Homo sapiens: one gene and its partners. The protein of the gene in region 5 interacts with the protein of the main gene of each other region in a biochemical or structural test. Each region holds a gene or a part of one and is shown on either strand. Other genes may lie near its edges. The genes, in order: KCNV1, ABCA2, PALLD, HCN2, PDLIM1, PLEKHA2 and MAP4.

Region 1 (2,636 bases), on a different chromosome or scaffold from region 5:
CCAATTTAATACCAGGAAGGAAGAGAGGGGCACTAGAGTTGAAAAGGCAAGCAAGGGAGTGATTATAATATAATATAATATAATATAATATAATATAATATAATATAATGTAATATAAGCACAGTGAGAACATAAGGATGGTGAGTATCCAGGTTTCCCTGTCGTCCCTAAAAACGTACCAGGTAGGCAACTGCCGTTGATGAGTAAAGCTCTCCCTGTGTGACATTTGTCTTCCTTATATTAGTATGGCTTGGAGAGAGTTCTGGGGTGGTGATGCTTTGCAAAGAAAAATCATGAAGGAGATCATCAGAACACATCATTTGCCTGCTATCCAATATCTTGTTGGATCTGAACTGAAGGATTCATAAGACAGTTATTAATGGCTAATATTTCAAAAGAAGAGACTTTTCTTGTTAACATAATGTATCAATAAAAATATTTCTCAAAGTATTAAGCTTATCCAATGACAATGTTTTGCTTAGATAAATTGGGTCAGCATATATATTTTCTGCAACAGCTAATCAAAATATTTTAATAAGCATAAGAATTCCACATTAAAACACAGAACTGAGATTCCTACCTCAGTTATTTTTGCATCTAATCCATTATACTTGATACTACTTTGCATTAAAATGATAAATGCAACAATTTCTTGTATGTTATAGAAATAATATATACATAAAATAAAATATGAATATGTCACTCTTAATAGAGATACCTCAGTAATTTCTTAAAATTGCTTTTTTAGGTACTTAAGCATTGCCTATATGCATTTAAATGTCTGAAAGTAGTGTTTTCTAACAGGCAAAGATTTCATGATGAAGACACAAAAGGTGGTTGCAACGAAAGCAAAAATTGGCAAATGGGATCTAATTAAACTCTAGAGCTTTGTCAGAGCAAAGGAACCTATCAACAGAGTGAACAGACAACCTACAGATTGGGGGAAAATATTTGCAAACTATACATCTACAAAAGTCTAATATTCCAGCATCTATAAGAAACTTAAACAAATTTACAAGAAAAAAAAATCCCATTAAAAAGTGGGCAAAGGATATGAACAGACACTTTTCAAAAGAAAACATACATGCAGCCAACAATGATATGAAAAAAAGCCTCAATATCACTGATCATTAGAGAAACGCAAATCAAAACCATAATGAGATACCATCTCACACTAGTCAGAATGGCTATTATTAAAAAGCAAAAAAAAAAAAGCAGATGCTGGCGAAGTTATGGAGCAATTGGAACGCATATACACTGATACTGGGAGTGTAAATTAGTTCAGCCATGTGAGAGTGTGGCAATTCCTCAAAGACCTAAAAACAGAAATACCACTGGATCCAGCAATCCCATTAATGGGTATATACCCAAGAAATATAAATTGTTTTATTATAAAGATACATGCACACGTATGTTCAATGCAGCATTATTCACAGTAGCAAAGACATGGAATAAACCTAAATGCCCATCAACTGTAGACTGGATAAAGAAAATGTATGTATACACCATGAAGTACTATCCAGCCATATGAAAGAATGAGATCATGTCATTTGCAGGGACATGGATGGAGCTGGAGGCTATTATCCTTAGCAAACTAATGCAGGAAGAGAAAACCAAATACCACATGTTCTCACTTATAAGTGGGAGCTAAATGATGAGAGCACATGAACACATAGAGGGAAACAACACACATTGGGGCCTATCAGAGGGTGCTGGGTAGGAGGAGGGAGAGAATCAGGAAAAATAACTGGTGCTAGGTTTAATACCTGGGTGATGAAATAATCCGTGCAAAAAAACTCTCATGACACAAGATTACCTGTATAACAAACCCGCACATGTATCCCTGAACTTAAAATAACAGTTAAATTAACAAAGAAAGTGGCTAACACGGTGAAACCCCGTCTCTGCTAAAAATACAAAAAATTAGCCAGGCGTGGTGGCGGGCGCCTCTAGTCCCAGCTACTCGCGAGGTTGACGCAGGAGAATGGTGTGAACCCAAGAGGTGGAGCTTGCAGTGAGCCGAGATCGCGCCACTGGCACTCCAGCCTGGGCGACAGACGGACACTCCGTCTCAAAAAACCAAACCAAAACAAAACAAAGAAAGTAGTGTTCTCTAAATAGCTTAGAGAAAGACAATAATTCAATTATTTTATATTTTAAAAAATTAAATATTGTTTTATAACAATAATTCTTAGATGTTTAAAAAGTGTTTACTGTTTTAAAATAATGGGTTATAAAATTGGCAGAGTTCCTGCCTTGATTTTTTTACCTAAATGAAATTTGGTTTGCTTATATATACATTCATTGAATAAATAAAATGATATTTTATTTAACAGCAAAATTGAGTAAGCAATGATATTTTAAAACTTCTTTCTGAAGACCTACATCTTGACAACATTTATATAGCTAACAGCACATTTGTAGAGAAGATGTTTAGGATCCTCCATGATAAAAACATATATACATATGTATACACATAGTTTTTAATTTTTTTTATTTCCAACTACTATTTACTCTAAAGATAATATATTTTTAATCTAATAATGACTATAAGGTGTCACCACAGCCTTTTCTTAAAAGCACCATTCCACCTCTGAGAATAAGCTGATATTTTACTTAAGGCATATTGAACTTCT
Region 2 (3,500 bases), on a different chromosome or scaffold from region 5:
TCCTCAAGGTGTCGGAGGAGGATCAGTCGCTGGAGAACAGTGAGGCCGGTGAGGGGCCTGGACCACTTGCTCAGCCCACCCCACCCACAAGGCCCCAGCTCGGGCCTGCGCTGTCACTCCTGCCTGGTGTCTGGGGGCGCCACCCTGGTCCTGGGTGGAAGCCAGGGGACGCCCCGGGGTTAGCCTGCGGTCCTAGGTGGGTGGTCCTGGTGGCCAGAGGTCCCGGACAGGTGTATGAGCCTGGGAACTGGGGTCAAGACCGGGGATGGGGGTCCTGGGCAGGCCTAGGGGCCAGTAGCCCTGAGTGTCCCCTCGGCCCTTCCACTGCGGCAGATGTGAAGGAGTCCAGGAAGGATGTGCTCCCTGGGGCGGAGGGCCCGGCGTCTGGGGAGGGTCACGCTGGCAATCTGGCCCGGTGCTCGGAGCTGACCCAGTCGCAGGCATCGCTGCAGTCGGCGTCATCTGTGGGCTCTGCCCGTGGCGACGAGGGAGCTGGCTACACCGACGTCTATGGCGACTACCGCCCCCTCTTTGATAACCCACAGGACCCAGACAATGTCAGCCTGCAAGGTGGGGGTGGCAGGGTGAGGCTGGGACAGCAAGGGAGGGGGAGCAGGGTTGCGGGGGAGCGGCATGAGGGCAGCCAGTAGGGAGAGGGTAGCGTGCAACCACCTGCTCAGCCTCTACCTCTCTGCACAGAGGTGGAGGCAGAGGCCCTGTCGAGGGTCGGCCAGGGCAGCCGCAAGCTGGACGGCGGGTGGCTGAAGGTGCGCCAGTTCCACGGGCTGCTGGTCAAACGCTTCCACTGCGCCCGCCGCAACTCCAAGGCACTCTTCTCCCAGATCTTGCTGCCAGCCTTCTTCGTCTGCGTGGCCATGACCGTGGCCCTGTCCGTCCCGGAGATTGGTAGGCCACCGGCTGGACAGGGGTGCTGGGCTTGCCTCCCCCCACCGCCCGCTGGGAGCCCTGATGATGCCCACTCCTGAGCTTCCTGACTCTGGGCCTCACCCCACACCTGAGGCTGGGCACGCACCGGGGTTCATCCGGGAGTCCTGTCTCCTCGGGTCCCAGACCCCAGGCGTGGATCCCTTGGGGTTGGGGGAAGGGGACCGAGGCTTGGGGGCCGCTGGCCAGAGGGCAGAACCTGCTCAGGCCTCCCTGCTCGCCCTGCCAGGTGATCTGCCCCCGCTGGTCCTGTCACCTTCCCAGTACCACAACTACACCCAGCCCCGTGGCAATTTCATCCCCTACGCCAACGAGGAGCGCCGCGAGTACCGGTGAGGCCTCCAGCGGGGGCAGCCTTGGTGGGTGGGGCGAGTGAAGGGGCGGGGACAGCCTTGGTGGGCCAGGCGGGCGAGGGGGCGGGGCTGGCGAGGGGCGGAGACTGGCAGCCCCACCTCACACTGTCGGTGCCCGCAGGCTGCGGCTATCGCCCGACGCCAGCCCCCAGCAGCTCGTGAGCACGTTCCGGCTGCCGTCGGGGGTGGGTGCCACCTGCGTGCTCAAGTCTCCCGCCAACGGCTCGCTGGGGCCCACGTTGAACCTGAGCAGCGGGGAGTCGCGCCTGCTGGCGGCTCGGTTCTTCGACAGCATGTGTCTGGAGTCCTTCACACAGGGGCTGCCACTGTCCAATTTCGTGCCACCCCCACCCTCGCCCGCCCCATCTGACTCGCCAGCGTCCCCGGATGAGGACCTGCAGGCCTGGAACGTCTCCCTGCCGCCCACCGCTGGGCCAGGTAGTGGTTCAGGGGGCCTGCTGGGGGGGCAGGGGCAGTGAGGGGTCCTTCTCACCGCACCATGCTGTGCCCACAGAAATGTGGACGTCGGCACCCTCCCTGCCGCGCCTGGTACGGGAGCCCGTCCGCTGCACCTGCTCTGCGCAGGGCACCGGCTTCTCCTGCCCCAGCAGTGTGGGCGGGCACCCGCCCCAGATGCGGGTGGTCACAGGCGACATCCTGACCGACATCACCGGCCACAATGTCTCTGAGTACCTGCTCTTCACCTCCGACCGCTTCCGACTGCACCGGTGAGCTGGGTGGGGAGGCTGTGGGTGAGGGTGGCCGGCCACCAGCCACCTAGTCTCAACTCCTGCCCCTCTAGCCTCACTGCCTGCCTAGCCTCACCGCCCCTCCCACCTGCCTGCCCAGGTATGGGGCCATCACCTTTGGAAACGTCCTGAAGTCCATCCCAGCCTCATTTGGCACCAGGGCCCCACCCATGGTGCGGAAGATCGCGGTGCGCAGGGCTGCCCAGGTGAGCGAGGCTGCGGGCCTGGGCCCCGCTGTGTGTAGCGCCGCCCGAGGTCTGCAGGGACCCAGGTCTGAGGTCCTGGGGCCTTTCTGTGTCCTCTTCCTTCTGCAGGTTTTCTACAACAACAAGGGCTATCACAGCATGCCCACCTACCTCAACAGCCTCAACAACGCCATCCTGCGTGCCAACCTGCCCAAGAGCAAGGGCAACCCGGCGGCTTACGGTGAGCTGACATAGGCAGGGCGGGGCGGGGCGGGGAGGAGCTGGGGCCGGGGCGGGGAGGAGCTGGGGCCTGAAGCTGCCGCCCCCGCCCCGCCGTGTGCAGGCATCACCGTCACCAACCACCCCATGAATAAGACCAGCGCCAGCCTCTCCCTGGATTACCTGTAAGTGTGGCCAGTGGGGGATGAGGTGGGGCAGGTGGGCACTGCAGCCCCGGCCGTGAGGACTGAGGGCTTCCTTGCCCCAGGCTGCAGGGCACGGATGTCGTCATCGCCATCTTCATCATCGTGGCCATGTCCTTCGTGCCGGCCAGCTTCGTTGTCTTCCTCGTGGCCGAGAAGTCCACCAAGGCCAAGCACCTGCAGTTTGTCAGCGGCTGCAACCCCATCATCTACTGGCTGGCGAACTACGTGTGGGACATGGTGCGCCCGGCGTGGCCATGGGGTGCCCCGGCCCTTCTCATCCCCCATCCCCGCCCTGCCCCGGGTCTCTCACCAGCCGCCCCCACCCCTGCAGCTCAACTACCTGGTCCCCGCTACCTGCTGTGTCATCATCCTGTTTGTGTTCGACCTGCCGGCCTACACGTCGCCCACCAACTTCCCTGCCGTCCTCTCCCTCTTCCTGCTCTATGGGTAAGCGGAAGCGGAGGGGGGAGCGGCCTCAGGTGGGACCGGGGCTGCCTGGTGACCACTGCCCGCCACCTGCCCGCAGGTGGTCCATCACGCCCATCATGTACCCGGCCTCCTTCTGGTTCGAGGTCCCCAGCTCCGCCTACGTGTTCCTCATTGTCATCAATCTCTTCATCGGCATCACCGCCACCGTGGCCACCTTCCTGCTACAGCTCTTCGAGCACGACAAGGTGGGGCGGTGACGACATGGTGGGGGTGGCGGACCCTGCGGAGGCTGTGCCCCTCACCCCGGCCACCCCTGTGCCCCTGACCCCGGCCACCCCGCAGGACCTGAAGGTTGTCAACAGTTACCTGAAAAGCTGCTTCCTCATTTTCCCCAACTACAACCTGGGCCACGGG
Region 3 (3,500 bases), on a different chromosome or scaffold from region 5:
CACCAGCTCTCTGACCTTGGAAACTCACTTCACAGAACTCAGTTTAGTTATTTGTGATTTGGGAATAACAACGAGGAATAAATGATATAGGTGTGTGAAGAGCTCCCTGTTAGTTATTCTCTATTCTTCAAACCCAAACTCCACTCCCCCCACCACCTTTTTTGGTTTCTAATGCCTCCTGAAGATGGCCCAGAACTTAAGAATATTTAAAACCCTTTATATCGTGGGTATTGAGAAAGATCATTTGTATCTCTTTCTCCTACTGGCATGCTATGTTTTGGAAGCTAAACCTTTCCTCAGAGAATGACTCTTAAAAAGCCTCCATCTCCCAGCTCACCTTTGGCTTTGGATTTCCAGCCACTCTACATGTGAAAGTTACTGGCATTCCCTCAAAGATCTTGTAATGTTTCAGCTTCATCTCAAAGAATGGTGCCATTCCATTTTCCACAGGCACATCTCCATACTGAACTTCATCACCTGATTCATCCACAGGAGACCTTTCTAGCCTGTACTCTATTTCACTGATGAGTCTCTGTTCACAGCTGGAGACTTTGTATTCCTGAATCAAGGAAAGTTTAAGTTAGCAGACTCAATCCCTTCTGACAAAGTGTCACGTCTCTCCCTGCCCCCCAATAAGGCCCTAGAAGACAGTGATATTTTTACCATACAGCTTAAAAACACAGTCTGAGCCCAATTCAATTGCATATGAAACAAAAAACATCTGGAAGTGAGTTTATGTGGTATTTCAGATTGTCTTCAAGTCCTATCATCCAAAAAGAGGGGGGTAGGAAAGATGAATTTTTTTTTCCTTCTTTTCTCTGAGGCGAGGGGAAACAAGGGGAAGGAAAGAAAAAGGCAAAAGCAAAGCTATGTATTCCTAAACTGTTGATAACAATAAAATATAATGGAACGCTGATTTCCTTCTGTAGGGTAAAAGCTGATGCAGGGTGGTACATCTCTCCACATAGTACATGTGGCAAGCAGCTGCCATATTATATACAATTATAGTAAAAGAATAATAGAAAAAATGGTACTAGAAAAAATGGTAATAGAAAAAATAGTAAAAGAATAATAGAAAAAAAAAAATGTTTGTTTTTTTTCCCCCACCTCTAACAATCCCTGCCTTGCAAGGGCCGCCTCCTCAGCTCTGCAGCTGTTAGGAACCCACCATCTTTAGAAGAAAAAATAGGACTGACAGTCTAGCCAAAATTTTGCTTTAAAAAAAAAAAACAACCCATCAACATTCCTGTGGTGATTACGGTGGATCCTACAATTTCCTTGCCTACAAAGTGCATTAAAGGCCAGGTACAGTGGCTCATGCCTGTAATTCCCAACACTTTGGAAGGCCGAGGTGGGAGGATTGCTTCTGGCCAGGAGTTTGAGACCAGCTTGGGCAACAAAGTGAGACCCCATCTCTACAAAAAATTTAAAAAGAACAGTAGCTGGGCATGGTGGTACATGCCTGTTGTCCCAGCTACTTGGGAGGCTGAGGTGGGAGGATCACTTGAGCCTGGGAAGTCGAGGCTGCAGTGGGCCGTGATTGTGCCACTGCACTCAAGCCTGGGCAAAAGAGTGAGACCCTGTCTCCAAAACAAAAAAGTGCAATGAAGACAAGGGAGTCTATGTAAATATTCCCTATTTAATATTAAATGAAAGATAACTTTAACTATGTTTTCTCTTAAAGAAGTTACTCAGTGTTTAAAAAACAAGTTTGTTGGTTTGAGGGAAGAAATACAACAGTATGAATAAAACTGCAAGAGTTATACCACAAGTTGTTTTGCTTCATCTAATTACTATCAAATTAATCCCTTGAAGAATTAGCACTTTTGTTCCCCATAGAAAGGTATATATAACAAATGAAAAATTTTTCTTGATTTAATGTTCAGAGTATCCACTAATGACAGAATTAAATTCAAGTCAGAGGCCAGGCACTGTGGCTCATGCCGTATTCCCAGCGCTTTGGGAAGCCAAGGCGGGTGGATCACCTGAGGTCAGAAGTTCGAGACCAGCCTGACCAACATGGTGAAACCCCATCTCTGCTAAAAATACAAAATTAGCCAGGCATGTTGGCATGCACTTGTAATCCCAGCTACTTGGGAGGCTGAGGCAGGAGAATCGCTTGAACCCAGGAGACAGAGGTTGCAGTGAGCCAAGATCACACCATTGCACTCCAGCCTGGGCAACAAGAGCGAAACTCCATCTCAAAATAAATAAATAAATAAATAAATACATAAAGTAAAAATAAATAAATAAATTCAAGCTGGTAAATACATGACAAGAAAACTCATGTTGCAGTAATTTTGTGTATCTGATATTAAATGAAACAGACACTGGTCATAGCATTTATAATTAATATATGGCAGAAAAGATAGAAACACACGTAAAACAGGAAGAACAGAAGAAAACAGACACAGAGAAAGACTGGAAGGAGAAGAAAGGTGAAAAGCTTAACCTTTTGACCATCCAGAGGACTCCCTACAGAAGCATGAGGAGAACCAATGTCCTGTAATGGTAGAAAAAAAGATGTGAAGACTAATAATAGAAATAATAAGAATGCAGCAAGATTTCTAATTTTCCTTAAGTGAAACTTTTGTGCTAGCAATATGCGTTTGGTAGTAACGGTGCTGTGAGTACTCACACAACCATTCTGCTTCTCACTTTTGGTACAGGACTCCATAAATCACATGAGATATTCAATACTTTATTTTAAATAGGCTTTGTGTTAGATGATTTTGCCCAACTGTAAGCTAATGTAAGTGTTGTGAGCACATTTAAGATAGACTAGGCTAACCTAAGATGTTCAGTAGGTTAGGTGTATTAAATGCACTTTTTTTTTTTTTTTTGAGATGGAGTCTCGCTCTGTCACCTGGCTGGAGTGCAGTGGCACGATCTTGGCTCACTGTAACCTCTGTCTCCTGGGTTCAAGCGATTCTCATGTCTCAGCCTCCCGCGTAGCTGGGACTACAGGCGCACGCCACCACACCCGGCTAATTTTTGTATTTTCAGTAGAGACGGGGTTTCACCATGTTGGTCAGGCTGGTCTTGAACTCCTGACCTCAGGTAATCCACCCGGTCTTGGCCTCCCAAAGTGCTGGGATCACAGGCGTAAGCCACTGCGCCCCGCCTTAAATGCACTTTCAACTTACAATATTTTCAACTTATAATGAGTTTATCAGGACATAACCCCATACTAAGTTGAAGAACATCTGTATATATGTGAAAGAAGATAAAGAGATAATATTTTCTATTTTATTTTGACTAGATATTAAGACTAAACAGTTGATCTTTGAACAACACAGGTTTGAACTGCATGGGTCCACTTATATATGGATTTTCTTCCGCTTCTGCAACCCCTGAGATAAGCAAGACCAACCCCTTGTCTTCTTCTCTTCAGACCACTCTAATTTAAGACAATGAGGATGAAGACCTTTATGATGACCCACTTCCACTTAATGAATTGTAAATGTATCTTCTATTCCTTAAGATGTTCTTTGTAACAT
Region 4 (3,500 bases), on a different chromosome or scaffold from region 5:
CGAGCTCAACGGGCCCCTGCGGGAGGTGAGGCGGGCGCCGGGCGGGCGGGAGGCAGCCTCCGGTACAGGGCCGGCCTCCCTCTCCTGGAGCCCAGGAGCCGGTCCCTGAGGGAGGCGAGGTGCCTAGGCTGCAGCAGGAGGGACTCGAGCTAGACCTGCGTACACACCCTCCCCTCCCCGCCCCGTGAGCCTCTGCACCCCCAGGACCCCCGCCACCCCCGCCTTGCTTCCCGCTGCCCCCTTAGCAGAACTGCCTGGGTCTGTGCCTGACAGGGCGGGGCAGAAGCAGGGCAGGGGGTGGGGAGGGAGGAGCCGCAGAGGCCCCGCTGAGCACCAGGTCCTGGGGGCACTGAGGCTGATTGGAGCGGGTTTAACTCCCAGCTCTGTTCCGGTAGCCTGAGTGACCCTGGGCAAGTTTCCCAGGGTTGCGGGAACAAATACCCACAGGCTGAGTGGCTTGAACAGCGGAGATTCGGCCTCCCACCGTCCTGGAGGCCGGAAGCCCAACATCAAGGCGTGGGCCGGGCCGTGCTACCCCCCCGGAGCCCCTGGGGAGGATCCTTCCTGCCTCTTCCGGCGTCTGGGGCTCCAGGCGCCCTTGGCTTGCAGATTGATCTCCCTGATCTCTGCCTCCATCTGCTCACAGCCTTCTCCCCTGTGTGTCTCTGTCTCTTCTTGTAAATTCATCCGTCGTTGGATCAGGGCCCACCCGGTTCCTCGTGGCCTCGCCTTAACTGGGCCATGTCTGCAGAGACCCTATTTCCACATAAGGTCCTATTCACAGGAACCGGGGGTCAGGATGTCAGCCTGTCTTTCTGGGAGATGTAGTTCAACCCACAACACACATCAAACAGTTATTGAGCGCCGACTGCGTGCCCTGCCGTGTGCTTGAAGGTCCCACCCTCAGGAAGCGGGGCCTAGGGATGGCGGCCGTGATCACGCAGGCAGCAGAGAGCAGCTCTGGGAAGCGGGGAGGGACGAGGACGGGGAGGCGACATCAGCAAGGCCGTGTGTGAGCCAGGCAGGGTGTCCCCGGTGTAGCACCTGGCTCGGGCAGAGGCCCCGAGGAGGGGCTGGAGGAGCTGGGCGAGGAGGCGGGCAGGACGGGCCTGACACTAGGGACCTCGGGCCCCGGGAATGCCTCTGGGGGGGCGTGTACACCCGTTGCTCCCAGGAGGCACACACTGCGGTTCGCTTCGCCAAGAATGTTTAATTGCATTTGATGACTACGGTTTCCATTCATTCATTTGTAGAGATATAACACTCAGACCACAAAATGCATAAAATGCGGTGGCTTTTAGTATTAACAGAGTGCTGCACCCGATACCACAGCCTCACTCCAGAACATTCTCATGGGCCCAAAAGGAGACCTGGGGTGTTAGTCACCAGCTCACTCCCCGTCCCCAGCCCCTGGCAACCCACGCTACTTAGTCATTATTTAGGTGTTTAGGAGTTGCAAAGTCAAATCTTTAAACCCACATATGGCCAGGCGTGGTGGCTCACGCCTGTAATCCCAGCACTTTCAGAGGCCGAGACGGGCAGATCACCTGAGGTCAGGAGTTCGAGACCAGCCTGGCCAACATGGTGAAGCCCCGTCTCCACTAAAAATACAAAATTAGCCGGGCGTGGTGGTGGGCGCCTGTAATCCCAGCTACTCTGGAGGCTGAGACAGGAGAATCGCTTGAACCCAGGAGGCGGCGGTTGCAGTGAGCCGAGATTGTGCCACTGCACTCCAGCCTGGACAACAGAGCGAGACTCCGTCTCAAAAAAAAAAAAAGTACCAAAAAGTGCCCCAGGTCATAAGGGCACAGCTCGATAGCTGGTCCCTAAAGGGAACGTGGTGTAACCACCACACAGAACGAAGCTGGAACGTTCCTGCCGTCCTTAGAAGCTGCCTTTGCTAAGGGGAATTGCCCTGACTTCCCACACCATTGATTCATCTCCAGACCCTTGGTTTTCATGTTGATTTTTCAAAAATCACCTGATAGTCTGACCGAATGTAGCTTTCCACTGGTGTGTGTGTGTGTGTGTGTGTGTGTGTGTGTGTGAGAGAGAGATGGAGTCTCGCTCTGTCACCCGGGCTCCAGTGCAGTTGTGTGATCTTGGTTCACTGTAACCTCCTCCTCCCGGGTTCAAGAGACTCGTGCCTCAGCCTCCCGAGTAGCTGGGATTACAGGCACCCGCCACCACACCCAGCTAATTTTTTGTATTTTTAGTAGAGATGGGGTTTCACCATGTTGGCCAGGCTGGTCTCGAACTCCTGACATCAGGCGATCCACCCACCTTGGCCTCCCAGAGTGCTGGGATTACAGGTGTGAGCCACCACGCCCGGCCTTATTTTTCCCCCATTTTCTTTTTTTTTTTTTTTGAGTCAGGGTCTTGTTCTGCGCTCAGGCTGGAGGGCAGTGGTGTGGGGATCACGGCTCACTGCAGCCTCGACTTCCTGCACCACCACGCCTGGCTGTTTTTTTTTTTTCCGGTAGAGACGGGGGTCTTACCGTGTTGCCCAGGCTGGTCTAGAACTCCTGGGCTCAAGCGATCCTCCCGCCTCGGCCTCCGCAAATGCTGAGATCACACGCGTGAGCCCCCGCACCCGGCCTCCTTTCCACCGCTCTTGTCTACAGCCGCCCCTCCTGGTCCGATTGTATTGGCAGATGTCGCCAATACGGTGTCAAACGGCGAAGGGGCACTGAGCGTTTTTTCTTTCTCCCGTCCTTGGCGGCAGCAGCTCGGTTCCGGCTACGGGGCTGAGCCCGTCTCTCAGACGAGGAAACTGGGGTCCGAGAGGTGAGCCGGTCCCAGAGGCAGGGCGAGGGGGAAGCGGGAGTGGGGTCCGCAGCGGACCCAGCCCTGCCTCCCCCCTGCAGGAGATCGTCAACTTCAACTGCCGGAAGCTGGTGGCCTCCATGCCGCTGTTCGCCAACGCCGACCCCAACTTCGTCACGGCCATGCTGACCAAGCTCAAGTTCGAGGTCTTCCAGCCGGGTGACTACATCATCCGCGAAGGCACCATCGGGAAGAAGATGTACTTCATCCAGCACGGCGTGGTCAGCGTGCTCACTAAGGGCAACAAGGAGATGAAGCTGTCCGATGGCTCCTACTTCGGGGGTGAGCTTGAGGGGGGCGCGCCTGGAGGGGGAGGGGGCACGCGACCCCCGCGGTGTGCAGAGCCAGGGGGCCGGGGCCGGGGCCGGGGCCGGGGATGGGGATGGGGATGGGGATGGGGCCGGGGATGGGGATGGGGATGGGGATGGGGCCGGGGATGGGGATGGGGATGGGGCCGGGGATGGGGATGGGGCCGGGGATGGGGCCGGGGATGGGGCCGGGGATGGGGCCGGGGCCGGCACCAGGGAGAGCCTGGGTGGGAAGCGCCCACGCTGGCCAAGGTGCAGAGGCCGGGCCGTGTGCCTGGGCGGGGAGGGCCGCGGCGCCCGCCTCGTCCAGCAACCCCCCCCTGCGCGCCACGTGCAGAGATCTGCCTGCTCACCCGGGGCCGCCGC
Region 5 (3,500 bases):
CCACTACGCCTGGCTAATTTTTGAATTTTTAGTAGAGACAGGGTTTCACCATGTTGGCCAGGCTGGCCTCAAACTCCTGACCTCAGGTGATTCACCCACCTTGGCCTCCCAAAGTGCTGGGATTACAGACATAAGCCACCAAGCCCAGCCTCTGTATGCATTTTCAATATCTTTATCTAAACTAGGTCCTATCTATGTTCTTATTGTCTTACTTGATACGAATGGTCGTGTCTATAAAAATTAGTCCCTGAGTGTTCAGTAAGGAATCTGGCCTCCTACAAGACCGCTGTGTTCTTCACAAAATCATTTTTAGTATTTATGGCATTTACCAAGGAGACAGTGTATTACACATGGGAAAGTGCACCACAGAACTCAGCCACGGATGAGCAGCCCAATTTGCCCAGGATGTGGCTAACAAGAGTATCAATAATCACACAGGGTGCTAACAGCCATACAGGAATTACCTTTTTTGTCTTAGGTTTCATGGGTATATTCGGTTTTGGACTTAGCTTGGCTACCGCAAGGTGGAACTGTTCACTGCCTGGTCATCTTCATCTACCACAAGAACCATTCCCAAATGCCCTCCTATCCCCCACAAGCAGGTCTTTCTCTAGCCAGTCCTTCCACTCCTCTGCTCTTGTTCTTCACTGTCCAAGTGGGCATGGAACCTCATAACTGGACTGTAAATTCTCCCAGGTGGGGCCATGACTTTCAGTTTTTCAGGAGGGACAGGGAAGGGAGGTGCTGCTTTCTGAGGTGCTCTGAGCTGAGGCCACAAGGCAACTGGAGAGCCACCCCAACCAACCTCAGGAGAATGAGAGGCTCCAGGGTGTGGAGCCCAGGAGTGTCTTATCCCTCATGTTGAAGCCTGCACCACCCTTAGCACTTTTCAGAGCTGTGTGCTGGGTTAACACTGTTAGCAATGAAATATTGACAGTTATGGCTTATTAGGAGGCAGAATATAGTGGTTAAAGCTGGCCTGGAAGTGAGTCTGCCTGGCTTCACTTCCCAGCTCTGCAATTGTCTGACTTTGTGTTCTGTGTCCCTCTGTCATGGGTTGTGGGGAATACAGAAGAAGATAATGTAAGTGCATGCTTAGCACAGAGCAGGCACTCAAAAAATGTTAGCTGTTATTAATATATTACTATGACATAGAGATTAAGACTACAGGCTTGGAAGCCGGACTCCCCAGCCAAACTCCAGCTCTACCACTCACTGCTATATGATGCAGGCAGTGTACTTAAGGTCTCCAAGCCTCAGTTCCCTCATCTGTAAAATGGGGATCTTAATCCTACCTCACAAAATACGTGTGAAGATCACTGAATATATTATGGTCTTAGAATGGTGCCTGGCATATTAAAAGTCCTATATATGTTTTAACTATGGTTATTACTGCAAGCAGATCAAATAAATATTTCTCACACAAATCTTTCAAATGTAAATGGATGCTGCTGTGATTAACAGAAGACAAATACATCTGAAACATTCCTGAAATCACAGTGTTTTCTAAATCAACTTATGATTGAAGGTACAACTAATGCCATGAGAGACTAGGACACTCTAACAATAAAAAAGTGGGCTCTTGGCTCATGCCTGTAATCCCAGCACTTTGGGAGGCTAAGGTGGGCAGGTCACTTGAGGCCAGGAGTTTGAGACAAGCCTGGCCAACATGGCGAAACCCCATCTCTACTAAAAATACAAAAATTAGCCACATGTGGTGGCTCATGCCTGTGATCCCAGCTACTCAGGAGGCTGAGGCACAAGAATCGCTTGAACCCAGGGGGTGGAGGTTGCAGTGAGCCGAGATCATGCCACTGAACTCTAGCCTGGGCAACAGAGCGACACCCTGTCTCAAAAAAAAAAAAGTAGCTCTCATATTCAAAGGGTATGAAAACCTCTGGGTTTGCTTGCTTATTATTTTATTTTATCTTTACAGGGAATATTATTTTATTTTATCTTTACAGGGAACTGAACCCAGGAGAAGACATATGATTTTCCCAGGATCACCCACCAAGGTGCTCCGGACTAGAGCTCAGCTTGAGTCCCTGCCCTGGACATTGTACCAGGCCCTCAATTAAAGTCCTGGAAGCTTCCCCCAGGCTTTCCTCTGAGACCTACTGGAAGCGAAATAATCCTTTAAAAGTTAGTTTTCTGACACAACCACTTTTGCTCCAGTCTCTATCCTATCCTTTACAAGGAAGTTGAGTAGTAAGTCAGCCAGTGAGAAATTATGTAAATTCAACCAAATTACCTAACCTGTGAGCACCTGAGCTTTTCTGTTTGCAAAAGGCAAAGAATGCTAGCTTTCCTCTCCTCTGTGGAGCAAGAGTTAAGGCATGGCCTAAGAATGTGCCAGTCCTATCCTGATCCCAGTACACAGCAATTCCTTGGTGCTTTTCCCAGTCCTGGTCAGCCTAGGAGAATATGACCCAGACGCTTAGATGACACTCTCCTCTCAGTCATCTACCTGGCTGCAATACCCTAAAGCCACTGTTCTTCCCTCTTGCCTCCTCAAACAAACCAGCAAGGTTGGCATCAGGAGTTTAGGGAGGGGAGACTATCTGGTCAGAGGGTGATAATGTAGTATGGGCTCAGGCATTCACTTACATGTCATTCTCTTTGGTTTGTCCTCTTCCCCCTCTCTCCTTAAGTCAGCTGTGAGCAGCTGAAGTCGCTAATATTTCCCAGGTATCAATTTCACAGACCAAGGGCATGCAGCACAATGGCCATTAAAACATAATGACCCTTTTTGGACATTTCCTGCTTTTCATAATCTGACAGACAAACCCTTCTCTTTCAATCTTTACGACATGATGTAAAATCTATCTGAATCCGGAAATACCACTCTTAAAAATCAGAAATGACCCTCTGGCCACAGTAACCATTATTAAGCATCCCTTGGGATACTTGAGAAAAAGCATAAGCATTTGCCACAGAACCGCTCAGCTCTTAGCAAAGGGTTCCCCAGGACTCCAGAGACAAATGAGCAACTCCTCCAACTAAGGGCATCCCTTGATCTTGGCCTCACCCTTTCCTGTCTTTTATCAGTTGCTGGGAGAGAAAAACAGTCAACATAAACTGAGTTGCAATGTTGGCCTGGGTATTTCTCTGAAGGCTTCCCTTGAAAGTAACTAGAGGGAAGGAGAAATTAACATGGAAAATTTTTTTAATTAAAAAAATACCTCAAGGAAATGGGCAAGTGTTGATTTGAAGCAGGAACTGACAGAAAAAAATATCAGAGAACAGTGGCAAATGTGTGGCTGGATCATCAGGGAACACAAGGCAAGAGCACTAAACGAGAATGTGGGTAAAAGAAGCTAGCCTATGTCCACTTAAAGTTGGAAACCTGGGTTGAAATTTTAAGTTGATAACGATACTAGATGAAAACATTAAGGAGCTAAAGAAGCTGTTCACACACACACACACGTGTTCTGTATGAGTCTGTTCAGAAACAGGCAAAATTAAGCTATGGTATTTGGGATACCTAATTTAGGTGGTAA
Region 6 (3,500 bases), on a different chromosome or scaffold from region 5:
AGAAATACCTCCTCTGTTTCTTGCCCTTCCCTGAGATATATAGGAATGTTCTCCGATTCCATCAGCCCCTCTCTGGGCACCTGGAAGGTGCTTATTTTCATGGTTAGGCCATCAGGGCAGATGTAAAGGCAATTGTTCCATGTGTCTGAGGGCAGCGAGCAGCCTGCTGCTTCATCTCTCTGAGTGTTCTGATTGGAATCCATGCATTTGTAGCAATATTGCCTTCAGCTTGGAGAACGATTTAGGGAGAGGGTTGGCGGTTGAAAGAGGAGGGGAGGAGGGGAATCTTGCTAGTGTGAATGAGGCCAGGATAGGTTTTCGTCAGGACTTAGTGGCTTTTAAAAGTCTTTTTGAGCTGGGTGCAGTGGCTCATACTTGTAATCCTAACACTTTGGGAGGCTGAGGCGGGAGGATTGCTTGAGCCCAGGAGTTTGAGACCAGCCTGGGCAACATAGCAAGACCCTGTTTCTGCAAATATTTTTCTTTTTTAAAAAAAACTAGCCAGGCATAGGGGCATTTAAAAAAAATTAGCCAGGAGGTGGAGACTGGAGGATCACTTGAGCCCAGGAGTTGGAGGCTGCAGTGAGCTATGATTGCACCACTGTACTCCAGCCTGGGTGACAGAGTGAGACCCTATATCTAAATAAATAAATAAATAATAAACATAAGTCTTTTTGTAAAGATGAACAGACCTCAAGATAATGGTTATCTCTGACGGTGGGGATTCTGTCAGGGAGGGGCACACAGGGCTTCTAAGAAATAGGACTGATAATGCCTGTTTCTTAATCTGGATGATGAGTACAGGGTTTTCATTTAATTATTATTTTTTAAAAATGTAGACATATGTTTAATGTACTCTTTATATATGAGAAATTTCACAATAAGAAATCTTCAACATTGTAAGACACATATTCATGTTTCTTTTATTTCTTATTTGATTTAGGTGAGCATAGCTACCCCAAAACAGAAACCAAAAACTCCATTTTGCTTTGGTAAGTACTGAGCCAGGGGAGGGACTCATTTAATATTGACATGGCAACTTCCTCTTTTGCATGGAGACAGTCCTGTGATCACATGTGACTATACCCTGTGAGTATGAGTGACTTAAATCACAGTGACGGTCCTGGACGTCAAGTGATATTGTTTTCCCTGGTCTTGCTGCAAAGGTTGTTAATAACATAAGGACAGAGGTTCAGGGACTAGTAACATTTCTGTTTTCTTTCTTTTTTTTTTGGTTTTAGTTTTATTTTTTAAGTTGACAAATAATAATTATATATATTCATGGGGTACATAATGTATAGAGTAATTAGCATATCTATATTAGTCTGTTCTTGAACTGCTATAAAGAAATACCTGAGACTGGGTAATTTAAAAAGAGAACAGGTTTGCCCGGGCCTGGTGGCTCACACCTATAATCCCAGCACGTTGGGAGGCCGAGGCGGGCAGATCACCTGAGATCAGGAGTTTGAGACCAGCCTGGCCAACATAGTGAAACCCCATCTCTACTAAAAATACAAAAAAATTAGCTGGGCGTGGTGGTGAGTACCTGTAATTCCAGCTACTCGGGAGGCTAAGGCAGGAGAATCTCTTGAACCCAGGAGGCGGAGGTTGCAGTGAGCTGATTTCAGGCCATTGCACTCTACTCCACCTCAAAAAAAGAAAAAAAAAAGAGGTTTAATTGGCTCAGTGTTCTGCAGGCTCTATGGGGCCAGAGGAGAAGCAAGAAAGAGAGTGGGGAGGTGCTATGCATATTTAAATAACCAAATTTCACAAGAACTCACTATTATGACACAACAGCATGGGGGATGGTGTTAAACCATGAGAAACCGCCCCCACGACCCATCATGATCCAGTCACCTCCCACCAGGCCCCACCTCCAACATTGAGGATTACAATTGAACATGAGATTTGGGTAGGGACACAGATTTGGGTGGGGACAGAGATCCAAACCATATCAATGTCCATCATCTCGAACATTTTTTTCTTTTAATAATTGTCCATATGCATTTCAGTTTTCTTGATGCCACAAGGCAGGTGCAAAATGTCCACTATAAGTTTCTGTGAACCTTATTTTAGAGCTGAGAAATGTTGTGCTCAGAAAAGATGGAGGACTCAGAGGAGACGCAGATGGCAGTGCCAGGAAGGGGATAAGACAAAGGAAGGAGAATTCTGTTAAGGGTCTCAGTTGCCCAATAGTGACATGTTGGGGGATGGTGTAGGAGGCAGAGTCACCGTGCATGGGTGCCTCAAGTCAGGAAGTGGTCAGTGAATTCAGTGAATCCATCATCAAATAGTTACTTGGCTCCTACTATGTTCTCACAGCTGTGCTAAGTGCTATGAGCAAATGCTAACAAATAGTTTCTGTTGCCTATCTGGGGTGGTTCTGAATGTAAGTTTCACAAAGGCAGGGGTATTCCTCTGCCTTGTCACTGTGGTATCCTCAGCACTTAAAGATGTTTCCTAGCGCATAGTAGGTGCTCAGTAAATATTTGTCAAATGAATGAATGAACGGATGAATTCTGCATCTACCCCATGAGACTCACCTCCTACAGTTCAAGCTTATGCTAAGAGAATAAAGTATTCCCTTGAGCGATTCTGTCTCCCCACCTCAGATTTGTTCAGACTTCTTTGGCATGCTCATTCTTCTATTTCTTGCAAATTTCATAGCTAAGCTCAGAAATGACTCTCACGTTTTGTGGTTATCAGATCTGAAAATATATATATGTAATAATAGTGAATGTGGAAGTAAATTGTTGACCTAATGGAATGCTCAGAGGAAAGAACAGGTTGAGAGTGAGGCCAAGGTCACAGATTTGATCTCAGGAAAGCTTTGTTCTATTTCCCAACCACAGACAACTCTCCCAGTCCAGACCAGTTGTGCCAGAGGAGACCAAGCATGGGTCCAAAATTCTGTATATACCGTGATGACAGTAAATGTATTAGCACCGCCAGAATGCGGTTCACAGTTGTGTCTTGTTGACGGCAGACCAGCAGCCTCATCACCGCAGAACAGCACACTGAGGCTGCTGTTAACATGGTCAGGTGTTGTTCCTGTGGCCAATGGGATGTTTTTAAAGGTGGGAAAGAGAGTGAGCAGGTGTGGCCTGGGGCTTCCTAGATATCCAGGCAAATGACTTAGCATCATGGGAGATTTCTTGTTCTGCTTTGTGGAGTTCACTCATCTCACTCCCTCAAACACCTTAGCTTTGTGGAGACTTGTTGTATTGCTTGTATTCTGACCTAGGAATGTCTTCCCTTCTTTTCTGTGGCTTTTGTAGTTATCAATGCCCTGTCTCAGAGATATTTCCTTCAAGCCAATGATCAGAAAGATATGAAGGACTGGGTTGAAGCCCTGAACCAAGCCAGCAAGATCACCGTAAGTTTGGTTTCTTCTGTTTTCTGGTGGTAGTAAAAGTGCCTCTTCCCAGGCTATGGCCTTGTTGGGGTTGGGGAAAACTGAGATGGCAGCGGGGACTTTCCCAGGAGCCTGGTCTGTACCC
Region 7 (3,500 bases), on a different chromosome or scaffold from region 5:
TGGGCTCCTCCTCCCTTTAAGTCAACAGGCTCAGAGGGGGAGTTACAGTGTTGGCTAAGGTGACTGACCCAGACTATCAAGATGAAATCAGTCTACAACTTCACAACGGAAGTAAGGAAGAGTATGCATGGAATACATGAGACCCATTAGGGCATCTCTTCGTATTACCATGCCCTGTGATTACTGTCAATGCAAAACCACAACAGCCAAATCCAGGCAGGACTACAAATGATCCGGACCATTCAGGAATGAAGGTTTGGATCACTCCACCAGGAAAAAAACCCATGACCTGCTGAGGTATTTGGGGAAGGCAAAGTTAATACAGAATGGGTAGAAGAAGGTAGTCATCAATACCAGCTATGACCACGTGACCAGCTGCAGAAATGAGGACTGTAACTGCCATGAGTATTTCCTCCTTCATTTGTTAAAAACATGTTTGTGTATGTATACACATGTACTAATATCTTCACTTTATATTTCCTTTTCCTTTATCATGTGACATAAGATTTATTGATTTCATAACAGCATTTAAGTATTATTAACTTTATGTAATAGTATTTGGGTTGGGGATTGGTGTGTTTCTGGTTGTATGAAGGATAGTTTTATTACATTAGGTGTAATTATGACCTTATTATTGTCTTTATTTTAAGATTACATACGATCTCAGATGTATATGGGTTCAAGTTGACAAGGAGTGGACTTGTAATGTTAATACTGTCAACTTGATTGGACTGAAGGATGCAATATTGATCCTGGGTGTATCTGTGAGGGTGTTGCCAAAGGAGATTAACATTTGAGTCAGTGGGCTGGGGAAGGCAGACCCACCCTTAACTGGGTGGGCACCATCTAATCAGCCACCAGCGAATATAGAGCAGGAAGAAAAACATGAAGAGATGGGCCTAGCCTCCCAGCCTATATCTTTCTCCCGTGCTGGATGCTTCCTGCCCTCGAACATCGGACTCCAAGTTCTTCATTTTGGGGACTCGGATTGGCTCTCCTTGCTTCTCAGCTTGCAGACAGCCTACTGTGGGACCTTGTGATCACGTAAATCAATACTTAATAAACTCTCCTTTGGAGATATATCCTATTAGTTCTGTCCCTCTAAGAGAATCCTGACTAAAACAAGTAGTGTGGGGCTCGTGACAAAAACTGATAGCTTTGCTGCCAAAGGGGCTCCTGTGGCATGACAGAGCTGTTGTCCACAGCAAATGCCATCTCACACTACTGGAATTATAAATTCCACTATTTGAATAACCACTGCCGAATTCAGGATTTAGCAGCTTTTCTGAAGGAACCATAAATAGGAATTCAATGGTTCCTATAGTAGGAACTGGACTTGGTAATCCCAGCCTGTAATCTCCCAGCACTTTGGGAGGCCAAGGCGGGTGGATCACTTGAAGCCAGGAGATTGAGACCAGCCTGGCCAACACAGTAAAACCCTATCTCTACTAAAAATACAAAAACAGAATAACTAGCTGGGCACTGATTTTTATTATTTAGATGGTATGCACCTGTAATCCCAGCTACTCAGGAGGCTGAGGCAGGAAAATTGCTTGAACCCAGGAGGTGGAGGCTGCAGTGAGCCAAGATCACGCCACTGCACTCCAGCCTACGTAACAGAGCAAGACTCCGTCTCAAAAAAAAAAAAAAAAGTTCCTATAGTAGTAGTGGCACACCTGTGACCCATTTACAACAGACGAATGTGGGTGGGAAGCCCTATTCTATGCTCGTCCAGCCTACTTTACATATAAAGTATTATTGTAACTCCAGATCATGACAGGGAAAATGCTGAGAAATGAGTTCATTAAAGAGCTTTTAAAAGCCTAACAGATTATAATGTCAAAGGGTTCCATGAAAAGCAACTATTCAGTTGCTTTTACTATTCGGTTATGCCATTTCCCTATTCTATCTCTGACAACTATTATTAGTAGTTATCCTTTGGGAGCTGTTATGAACCAAAAACTAAAAAGGACGTCTGTAACTAGTTTTGATAGAGGCAAGAGGCAAACAAATGTCTAGGCAGACAGGGGCGGGTCCTCAGTGAAACCCGAACTTTAATCCGGAAACTGTCCTGGGTAAATCCTGAGATCGGATTAAGAACCTGCCTTCCCGTTTGGCATGATTGATCCCCATCCTTCACCTATTTAACCTGTACCTACCCTTTCCTAATTGGTTTTCTACACTGTCCTGCCCACCTTGGAGTGGTGTCTTCGCTTTGACCTTTTTTGCATACTCACAAACCAATGACCACACACTCCCATTCTGAACCAATAAAGAGCCCCAGGCTCAGCCATATTACGGAACTTTCCTGTCTTCAGGTAGTAGAACCACCTACCATGTTCTCTCTTTTTGCTAAGAGCTTTCCTTTCGATTAATAGATTCTACTCCACTCACTCTTTGATGTCCACGTGCCTAATTCTTCCGCTCCTGAGATAAGAACCTGGACCTAGTTGAGCTAAGGAGCAAAAATCCTGCATCAGTTTCATGGTCAAAGAGAACTTAAAAGGACATCTGTGCCATCCTTAACAACATACCATAAAAATCCAAAATTTAATTTTCCCCAGAAATACATAATGACATAAGATGCAATCTACTCAAATCTTTTCCTCATTTAAGGCACAGGGTAAAAATACAGTCAAAAACACCAATACATTTTAAATATCATTTATCAGAATGCAGATTATCAAAGGGCAGCTTTTATCCATTGTAATCTTTCCCCTATCCAACCCTCAGCACCCCCACCCCGCCCCCAGCCACACACTCTCAGATGACTTCCTGGGCTGCATGTGGTTCATGGAATATGAACAGTAGCTGAAATTCAGCCTAAGAGGGTAAAACTGATAGAAAATTATACAATTGGAAAGTGGGAAGGTCATGAAGCTATGAGCACATCTAGCTAGCCACTTAGCATCTGTATTTCATCAACAGTTAAGCTATTCTTTACTTGTCACCACATAAATAGAATATGATTTTAAAATACACACACACACCCCCTTATGGAAAATGATCCTAGAAAGGTAATGCTAGTGTCATCTTTCAAGTTAAAGTACTGTTGTTTTTTTTTTCCCAGAAATCCCCAGTTTTCAATAAATTAAAGCGATTATCCAATTTTATAGTTATTTTATTCTGAAACATGTATAAGTACAATACACTCTTTAAATGCTCTATAGATGTTAAACTGGTTCAAGTATTCCAAAATTAATTTTAATAAATTCATGTATGAATTTCATCTCACACAGAATCACTTGAAGTTACTTACTATTCGGTTATGCCTTAAATGCTTAGTTACATATTTTATGGATAAAAGGATATGACACTATTATTTTCAAATCTGGATGTTCAGGAGGATCAAAAAATGAACCCTTGTGAATGAGAAGCATTTACTCTAAAAAAAAAACCTCTCACTGACCAATTGACCATTTATACTATTCCTCTTCTATCCATACAGATAATAAAGTTAACTTTAAATAGATTTGTGAGTAAGAGTCAAGAGAATTTGA

Evidence for each region.
Region 1: the proteins of PDLIM1 (region 5) and KCNV1 interact in a test that uses a peptide from one of them, tested with the Homo sapiens proteins (one large-scale study listed by IntAct).
Region 2: the proteins of PDLIM1 (region 5) and ABCA2 interact in a test that uses a peptide from one of them, tested with the Homo sapiens proteins (one large-scale study listed by IntAct).
Region 3: the proteins of PDLIM1 (region 5) and PALLD interact in a test that uses a peptide from one of them, tested with the Homo sapiens proteins (one large-scale study listed by IntAct).
Region 4: the proteins of PDLIM1 (region 5) and HCN2 interact in a test that uses a peptide from one of them, tested with the Homo sapiens proteins (one large-scale study listed by IntAct).
Region 6: the proteins of PDLIM1 (region 5) and PLEKHA2 interact in a test that uses a peptide from one of them, tested with the Homo sapiens proteins (one large-scale study listed by IntAct).
Region 7: the proteins of PDLIM1 (region 5) and MAP4 interact in a test that uses a peptide from one of them, tested with the Homo sapiens proteins (one large-scale study listed by IntAct).

Annotation. Positions count from the first base shown.
Region 1 is NC_000008.11:109,963,136-109,965,771, forward strand, and holds the end of KCNV1 (potassium voltage-gated channel subfamily V member 1), read right to left. Parts: 3' UTR 501-2,636; downstream 1-500. UniProt on the Homo sapiens protein: Potassium channel subunit that does not form functional channels by itself. Modulates KCNB1 and KCNB2 channel activity by shifting the threshold for inactivation to more negative values and by slowing the rate of inactivation.
Region 2 is NC_000009.12:137,011,238-137,014,737, reverse strand, and holds part of ABCA2 (ATP-binding cassette sub-family A member 2), read left to right. Parts: coding exon 1-48; intron 49-333; coding exon 334-570; intron 571-699; coding exon 700-906; intron 907-1,174; coding exon 1,175-1,277; intron 1,278-1,419; coding exon 1,420-1,736; intron 1,737-1,812; coding exon 1,813-2,026; intron 2,027-2,147; coding exon 2,148-2,253; intron 2,254-2,361; coding exon 2,362-2,473; intron 2,474-2,575; coding exon 2,576-2,636; intron 2,637-2,719; coding exon 2,720-2,894; intron 2,895-2,988; coding exon 2,989-3,104; intron 3,105-3,183; coding exon 3,184-3,331; intron 3,332-3,428; coding exon 3,429-3,500. UniProt on the Homo sapiens protein: Probable lipid transporter that modulates cholesterol sequestration in the late endosome/lysosome by regulating the intracellular sphingolipid metabolism, in turn participates in cholesterol homeostasis.
Region 3 is NC_000004.12:168,895,552-168,899,051, reverse strand, and holds part of PALLD (palladin), read right to left. Parts: intron 3,460-3,500; exon of another isoform or gene 3,300-3,459; intron 2,504-3,299; coding exon 2,453-2,503; intron 560-2,452; coding exon 338-559; intron 1-337. UniProt on the Homo sapiens protein: Cytoskeletal protein required for organization of normal actin cytoskeleton. Roles in establishing cell morphology, motility, cell adhesion and cell-extracellular matrix interactions in a variety of cell types.
Region 4 is NC_000019.10:610,381-613,880, forward strand, and holds part of HCN2 (potassium/sodium hyperpolarization-activated cyclic nucleotide-gated channel 2), read left to right. Parts: coding exon 1-25; exon of another isoform or gene 26-774; intron 775-2,498; exon of another isoform or gene 2,499-2,867; coding exon 2,868-3,108; intron 3,109-3,471; coding exon 3,472-3,500. UniProt on the Homo sapiens protein: Hyperpolarization-activated ion channel that is permeable to sodium and potassium ions. Displays lower selectivity for K(+) over Na(+) ions. Contributes to the native pacemaker currents in heart (If) and in neurons (Ih).
Region 5 is NC_000010.11:95,284,504-95,288,003, forward strand, and holds part of PDLIM1 (PDZ and LIM domain protein 1), read right to left. Parts: intron 1-3,500. UniProt on the Homo sapiens protein: Cytoskeletal protein that may act as an adapter that brings other proteins (like kinases) to the cytoskeleton. Involved in assembly, disassembly and directioning of stress fibers in fibroblasts.
Region 6 is NC_000008.11:38,942,846-38,946,345, forward strand, and holds part of PLEKHA2 (pleckstrin homology domain-containing family A member 2), read left to right. Parts: intron 1-943; coding exon 944-992; intron 993-3,278; coding exon 3,279-3,376; intron 3,377-3,500. UniProt on the Homo sapiens protein: Binds specifically to phosphatidylinositol 3,4-diphosphate (PtdIns3,4P2), but not to other phosphoinositides. May recruit other proteins to the plasma membrane.
Region 7 is NC_000003.12:48,009,917-48,013,416, forward strand, and holds part of MAP4 (microtubule-associated protein 4), read right to left. Parts: intron 1-3,500. UniProt on the Homo sapiens protein: Non-neuronal microtubule-associated protein. Promotes microtubule assembly.